Homo sapiens: one gene and its partner. The protein of the gene in region 1 interacts with the protein of each later gene in a biochemical or structural test. Each region holds a gene or a part of one and is shown in the gene's direction. Other genes may lie near its edges.

Region 1 (3,910 bases):
GCTCCCAGCAGGAGACAGATGCTCACTCCGATGAGGGTCTTTGACGGGTGTTTGAAGAAGGGACTATTTGCGAAGACTTGGGCAGAGTCTGGGGTAACCTCAAGGGATAGTGCAGTCCCTGGGGCTAGTGTTACCACCCCTTGCCTGAAGGGGTGAAGGCAAGGAGTGCTAACCAAGACCCGGAGGTTCCAGGGATTTCAGGAAGGCTGTCTTAGCCGTGGATGTAGCCTGAGCTACTGGCCTCCAAAATCCTCTCCTCTCCCCCTTCCTCCCTTTGTAACATTTATCTTCTGGAAATTGCATTTGGATTGAAAAATAAAGCGGCTTTCTGGGAAGGATTTTGTGATTTCTTTGCTATGTTTAGTCATAGAAGAGACTGCCTTTCATAGATATGGTGGAATTAATGATTCATTTTTGCCACTGGAGAATAAAGCCGCTGCTGGATTTGCTGTATCGATGATCATAACTAGTCTGATAACACACTGAACACTTACTATGTCCTAAAGTTTTTGTTGTTGTTGTTGTTGTTTTGTTTTGTTTTGACACAGAGTCTTGCTCTGTTGCTCAGGCTGGAGTGCAGAGATGCGATCTCGGCTCACTGCAACTTCTACCTCCCAGACTCAAGTGATTCTCCCGTCTCAGCCTCCCCAGTAGCTGGGATTACAGGCATGCGCCACCATATCTAGCTATTTTTTTCTTTCTTTCTTTTTTTTTTTTTTTTTTTGTATTTTTAGTAGAGACGGGGTTTTGCCATGTTGGCCAGGCTGGTCTTGAACTCCTGACCTCAAGTGATCCACCCTCCTCGGCCTCTCAGAGTGCTGGGATTGCAGGCGTGAGCCACCATGCCCAGCCAACTATGTCCTAAACTTTAAAAATAGCTTTTTCTGTGCAGCACAAATCCCTGAACATAAGGAATATGTCCATTGATCCCTGCACAACAGTGCCCACTCCTGCAGCTGCAGTGCCACGGCTCAGGGAAGTCGTGGGAAAACAGAACTCCCCCCAAGCCACGGACCTCCACGCCTAGTAGCTGCTATGGCCTCTTCTGCAAAATGCAGGTTCTGTTATAAGGTTGAACCATACGAAGTTGCCATTTTTGTAGGATCCCCAAGAGGGTCAACTGTTAGCAATTTTATATCATCTAGCCTAGGTGAGGGTTCATGAGCTGCTGTGCATATGAAGTACTATGCATAGTGTCTTGGACATAGTAAGCAAACGCACTGAATTCGTAGAATGCTTATTATTGCTGTTGTTTTTTTTTACCTTTTTTTTTTTTTTTTTTTTTTTGGCTAGATGTTCTACCCATAGTAAAATAATCTAATTTGGATTTGGCCTCTTTATTTCCTCTCATCGTGTTGTAGGAATGAACATAAGCAACAAAGTAGCTAAAGAGGGGTCAGTAATGGAAGCAAAGGAGCAGGGCACTTGACTGCACTGTTACCTGGTGTGACCTTGGTGTTACCCAGGTGGCCGGGAAGGTCCTGGGCAGGGGTGTGTTGCTGGCTGCTCTCCATCTGAGCCTGTTTCTTGTCTCCAGGTACACCGTGCTCCGGCTAATGATTCGACAGAGGCTGGAGGAGATAGCCGAGACCCCAGCAACAATCTGAGCCATGAGAACGAGGGGATCTGGGCACCCCAGGAACCGCCATTGCCCATAAGACCCCCAGGAAGCTAGGCACTTTCTTTCCATGGAAACATTTAGACACAAACCTCCCCAGCTCCGGCCAAGCCATCATTTGCTACCTGGAGCTGGATGTAGAAGTCAGCAGACAGCTCCCTATCCCTGGACCCCTGCCCTCCTTTTTTCTGCTCACAAGGACTTTTGATTTTAGTTATAAGGAGGACCCAAAATGTGTGTGTGTACATGTGTGTGCACACATGGTACGTGTCCATGTGCCTACCTGATACTTTCACATGTAATTAAATTCCAGGCAACCAGCACAAGAGCCGTGAGCTTGGCACATGTGCTGCTCGTGAGCAGGAAAATCAGAGGAGCCACTGATCTGAGTGGTATTTAGGTTGAAGGAAAGATTTCTCCTCTCAAGTGCCAGGGAGCAGCCACACGTCTGTCTGTGTTTAGAGAGGGAAGAGGGTTCTCCAGGTTCACCATTTGGGTTGTTTATATGTTGGTAGAAATTCTCCCTGTATGCCTAGAAGGATCAGTGAATGTAAGAGCCTTGGAAATTAACAAAATAACAGCCACATAACCTTGCGGCAAGTCTGATGGAAAGAAAAAGATAAACCATCCGTGGGGTAGATGCAATAAGCCCACGTATTTTTACACTGGAAACGTTGATTGTTTTAAATGACAAAGACATATGTGATGTTCTATGTGGAAACCTGTGAAGAGTGGATTCTGCCTCCATCTCTGCCTCCATGGCTACCTTTAGGAGACAGAGAAGATCCTGTGTGTTTCTCTGTACCCAGCTGACAGCCTGTCTCTATGGCGCTTCCTTGAGTGGAAGGAAATGTCTCAAGAAACAAAGATCTCGCTGGTGCGTACACAGTGCTGACCAGCTAGTGTGGCCAGGGCCTGGTGGCCTGGTGGCCAGGAAGTTTCAGGTTGAAGGGAAATGTCGAGGCTACCTGCAGATATGACAGGTGCCTTGAACGCAGCCCATCTTCATGTCATCAAAGGTCTTCCTGCACTTGAAGCTGGGGCGATGTTTGCAGTCAAGACCATTCTTTCCAACCTCTGGGTTCTTGCAAGTTGCCCTCACCTTGTGTGTGGAGATGCATTCCAAGAATGAAGCCTCATCTTGCTACTGAGTGTGGGGTTCAGGGAAGCTCTTTAGGCCACCTGGTGAAGGTGCATGGGGAGGATGGAGCTTCTCCTCAGCTCCTCTGAGCAGCCACCTATGTGATCTTTAAATCCAACCCCAATGGGAGAAAAGGGCAAGAACAGTCTGTGCCCTGGGACTCCTATCAGGAAGCTTGACAGGCAGCTGGGCATCAGTGCAGCTGATATCGTTTGAGGAGGGAGACAGATGCTTGGACCTGGGTGCCTGGCTATGGAGATTGACCAAGCAAGATCAGGAGCTCCTGATAGCAGGCGTCTTTGAGCCTAGCTGGGGTAGAGGCACTGCCCATCTCTTCTCCACCTTCTCTCCACAGAATGTTTGCAGAGCTGGGCAGTTGAGGAAAGGACAGCCCCTGGTTGGTGCCTCCAAAGGAAGGTGGACTTTTTTGGTGGAGACGTTTCTGCCCTGGGCACCCTCCTGCCCCCGATTCATACCTATGGCTTCTTGAGAAGGCTCACAGCTGTGGTCTTAACGTAGACTGCAGAAAGATGGCATGCGGCCCCTGGCATTTCGCCAAGGGTTTTATAGCAAGTCTCCTTCCTCCATAGGGACAGCAGCACCAGCCCTGTGGGGCATGGAGTGGAAGCCCAGAAGGGCTTCTGCAAGCTGCACAGAACTGGGGTAAGAAGACAAAGAGTAGCCACCGGGAGAGGCTTCCTTTGTTACAGCTGGGAAAGAACAGTTCTGTGAATGCAAACACCTCCTGAGTTTTGCAATTGAGAAAATGATTTGGAGAACTTCTCTTCTGGTAATTTTTATTTTGAATGTTCAGGGCCTTAGTTGGCCCCAGTAATTCTCCTTGGAGGACTTGGGAGAAGAATTTCCACAAAGCAAACTACTAACCACTAGCTCTTACTGGACAGCGATTTCTGGCTTATAAGAGTTCTCTTTGATTTGCACTAGCACTACGATAGTGTTAGATGGGGAAATACTGCAACATGTCCAGTTGGCCAGATCACTTTCCAAGGGAGCGATACTAAGGCAGACTCAGCTTTTTAAAGATGGGAGGTCAGGAGGTGGAAGTGAGAGGAGATCCCATCTCACACAACACACTTCCACGTAATGCAGACCACACTTTTCCATTTTGTCCTGCCCTCTTGAGAGGTCAT
Region 2 (3,910 bases), on another chromosome or scaffold:
GTTTAAAAAAAATAGGATAATGATATTACCTACTTCATCATGTTAATCTGAGAATTAAATGGATTAATATACATAAGGCACTCAGAACAGGGCCTAGCAAAATGCAATACGAATGTTTAATTCGATATGATTGTTATTGTCCCCTCCCATCTAACAGCTGTAACAACTAGTCTGGGCTTGTGACACCTCCTAGGATTACCTTTCGAAGCAGTGAGTACAATTTGCGAACTCTGCCTGGTTGCTGAGCTAAGTGGGGAAGTGACTGCCATAGACATCCCAGAAAATTTGGGTATTAGGTGTCCTCTAGAAATGCCACTCCTACCTGATGTCCTGCTGTGGCTGAGGAGACCCTTCTTTGCCTGGCATAGGGGCCACGAAGCCATTGGCTCCTTGTCTTTGTGTTTCTTGCACCCAGCAGAGTGCCAGGCCCAGAGCAGGGTCTCACTATGTGGTGAGTGATGAAAGTGATGGCTTGTTTGTGCTATTAAATATCCCAGCCCTTGGAAACAAGCAGGAGGGCAGTGGGTATGTGAGTGACATCTGTCTGCCCAGGAGACTGACACTGGGTGGGAACCATGTTGGCAGAAGGGCACTTTAGTAAGGAAAGCATTTTGGAAAACACTCTTCCCACTGTCTGCCTTTTTAGCAAAAGTTCATCTAACCTAAGCTTACCCCACTTCAAGGTCTGTAACCAACCTCTGGTTAATGCTGGATTTGTGAACAGGGAAGTTCAGAGTTAATATTAATTTCTAGGATTAAAGAACTCCTAGTTGTGAGATAGAGAAGGAAATCCAGTGGGGATCTGTGGAAAGGCAGAGAGAGAACGAAAGGTCCTGTGAGCCCATGTGTGTGTTTTGGGGTAGGGGTGATGGTGATGGCGAGAATGCATTTCTAGCATTCTAGGAGGGAATGGTCAACAGCAAATAACCAGAGAAACTCACTGGCTGCCCTTTGGCTTTATTCTCAGGGACTTCCCCTTACAGATGACGTCCCTTAGTGTTCCTTCTGTAGAAGGCGCATGGAGGTGGCCTTTTACCTTTCATCTCATTTTGGTGGCTGCGTAAGCCATCCTGGACCAGGGGATGGTCTGGCACTTGGAGAAACCTAAGCCTGACTCAAACCCTCCTGGAGATGCTTAGACACACCTTGGCCATTGTCAGTGAATGCCACCTGTCTGCTCCTGGAGTCGGAGTCTCTCTCCAGAGGGGGCGTTATTCAGAGCTGTGAAGTGTTAAGTGATTGGAATTACATGGTTGAAAGGGAGGCCAACTAACCTCCCCACTCTGTGATAGATTTTAATGATGTGACTACAAGGCCCTGCCATGCAGCCCTCGGGGAAGGGCACCGGGACTATTCTTATTAAGAATGGCTGATATCTCCCTGGGCCTCTAGTCTGGTCTCTCTAGTCTTGTTGCTACGCTATTGGCTGGGTTCAGCTCCACTTTCTGCACTTTCTGCACAGCTGGAACCGCCTGCGTGACAGCCCCCGATCCTGCAGACCCATCCCCCGCTTGTGGGTTCTTTGTGAAAAAGGCTCCTGGGACATTGGCATTGATTCTTTCTGTAGCAGAGAAAGGTCTTCATTTCAGGCCTCTCAGAAATCATCCTGTGTTGTTCTGGCGGCTTCTGTATTTATTTACCTTGGGCACTTGGAAGGTATTTGCGCACCCAGCAGCACTGAGTGTGTAGCGTGTGTTTTCCTTGATTTAGCCCCGTGTTTGGCTTTAGAGTTTAAGAAAATGAAGCACAGAAATGGAAATTTTGTTGTTAAAGATTGTGAGAATCCCCCACTCCCAAGCCCTCTCCTACCCCTGGCTCTAACTGGGATCTTCTTCTTGGGCAAGGTCCTGTTGGAGGATGTGTGCGTTAGGGGCCAGGGAAAGGACCTGGAATGCTTTCAAAGAGGCCTTCTGAGCTTCCCACGCTGCAGCCCGTTTTTCCTCTCCTCCCTGCTTCCTGTCTTATCAAAAGATGAAAGTGAAAGGATTAAATGTGCGCTTAATTTTCCCCACTATTCATCAGAGCATGAAATTTTCTGATTATGGAGTGTGGGGGGCTTGAATCCCAGGTACAGTCAAAAATGATTAATGCCACTTGTCTGCCAGCCTAATTAGACTTGGTAATGAACGTGTGTGTTTGCCTGCTGATCCTGCGGAGTTATTAGGTGGAAGTGAATTGACATCTCCCCGCAGCACTGAGGGTTTGGTCTGATATCCTCTCTCTTCTCCCCAATTCTACCGGCGAGCCAGCCTGTGCCAAGCCTGGCAGGTAGTCCCTGAGTGACAAAGAAAAGACAGCCCCCAGCCCAGTCCCAAGGGCCCTGCCTCGGTGGGAGAGTGAATTTATCCTGTCAGGGAGCTACCTCCTGTGAAGTGTGAGCAGGTCAGGGGCCAGAGGCTCAGGGGAAGCTGCCGCAAGGCCGAACCCAGGTCTGAGAATGGGCATAAGAAGAATTCTTTGCATGTCAGTAGTGCCTTTTCTCTGAAGAGCCCAAAGTGTTTTCATGCCCGCTGCTACATTCATGCTCAAAATAGTTTCATGAGGTCAGAATACAGGGATACAGGGATGCTTAGCTCAGCTGAAAGGGAATTACCTGGCCAGGAGTCACCTGCTGGCTTTGCCAGGGACAGTGGTAAAGTTAGAACCTCTCGGGCGGGCCTCATTCTGACAGGTCTTCAAGGCTTTGGTGCTGTCTCAGGCCCTCAAGCCATTTCCCCCGCTTTGGGCTTCAGAGTCAGCACCTCTGTGTGAGAGGCTGCTACCTGAGGTGGGATGGCCATGGGTGGGTCCCAGCTCCTGCACCCCAGTGTTCTCCCACAGGGTTCTCTCTGGCTCCCACACCCACCCCTCATTCCTCAGTTTCCCCATGGAGGGCAGCTGCTGGCATTCTTGCTCTGCCCAGGCTTACTATGAAGGCTGCTGAGGAACCTGTAAACACATCTCTGGCCTCACCAGAGGCCCTTCCTGTTCGCATTCCTCAGATGGCAAGGTGAGTATTCTTGGGTGGGTGAGTATTTGTGGGTGTGCAAAGCATGCAAGCTCCCCACCCCCAGCCCTTCTGAGGGAACCATGTTCCTGGGGCTCAGTCAGCACCAGCTGGTATGATTTCCTTCTCACAAGCTTGCAGACCTGGGTCTGTGCTGGTGGCAGGATGCTTTCTGCCTCCCTGCAGGGTCTCGCTCTGTCTCTGCTGACTCTGGGCACCTGCCCCTCCCGCAGGGCTCTGTTCTGACTCTCCATGGCTGGGTGGGGAAGGGCTGGCGGCAGCTGGGAAGGCCGGGCCTGACTGGGGAGATGGTTTTGCATTTAGTCATTTTCAGTTTTTTTCCAAGACTTTTGGCAAGCCTTTCTCCACATGTTCCGGGCTGGATCTCAGGGTCGGAAGGGGAACAGAGCCAGTTTTGGGGCTTAGGGGAAACAGCGAGGAGGCTGAGGTGATGACGTTAGACCAGGCAGAAGGCTGGGTTCCCTGGGGGCACTGGTTTAAGTGGAATAAAGTCGGGGCTTGGGAGCAGTCATGGGTTGCCCCACCCCAAGGTCAAGACTATCTTGACTCACACCTGGGGAAGTGACTTTTGAGTTTTTTCTGAAGCACTCATAACTATGCTGAGGAGACTTGGGCAGAGCCTGGTAGACCCCAAGAACTCTCCATGGTGTGGTCTTTGGCTGAAGTGGCCCACAAGGCCATGCCGGGCCTGTTCTAGCATGCCTGTGGTTCCTAGAGTACACAAAGGTTTGTGAGAGATGTACCCATTGGGAAATCTTTGAGGTTTGATTCTCTTTTTTTACCCTTTTTGGAGAGGAAGGAGGAAGGGCAGTGGGGTCCCTCCTGGCATCATAGCATGTGTCCAGCCTCCCAGGGGAGAATGCCCCACTTTGGCTGAGGAGTCTGGTGACCCCTGGGAATTGT

Evidence for each region.
Region 2: the proteins of RASSF2 (region 1) and RASSF5 form a complex in vitro, tested with the Homo sapiens proteins (one study listed by BioGRID).

Annotation. Positions count from the first base shown.
Region 1 is NC_000020.11:4,781,970-4,785,879, reverse strand, and holds part of RASSF2 (ras association domain-containing protein 2), read left to right. Parts: intron 1-1,537; coding exon 1,538-1,607; 3' UTR 1,608-3,910. UniProt on the Homo sapiens protein: Potential tumor suppressor. Acts as a KRAS-specific effector protein. May promote apoptosis and cell cycle arrest. Stabilizes STK3/MST2 by protecting it from proteasomal degradation.
Region 2 is NC_000001.11:206,510,377-206,514,286, forward strand, and holds part of RASSF5 (ras association domain-containing protein 5), read left to right. Parts: intron 1-3,910. UniProt on the Homo sapiens protein: Potential tumor suppressor. Seems to be involved in lymphocyte adhesion by linking RAP1A activation upon T-cell receptor or chemokine stimulation to integrin activation.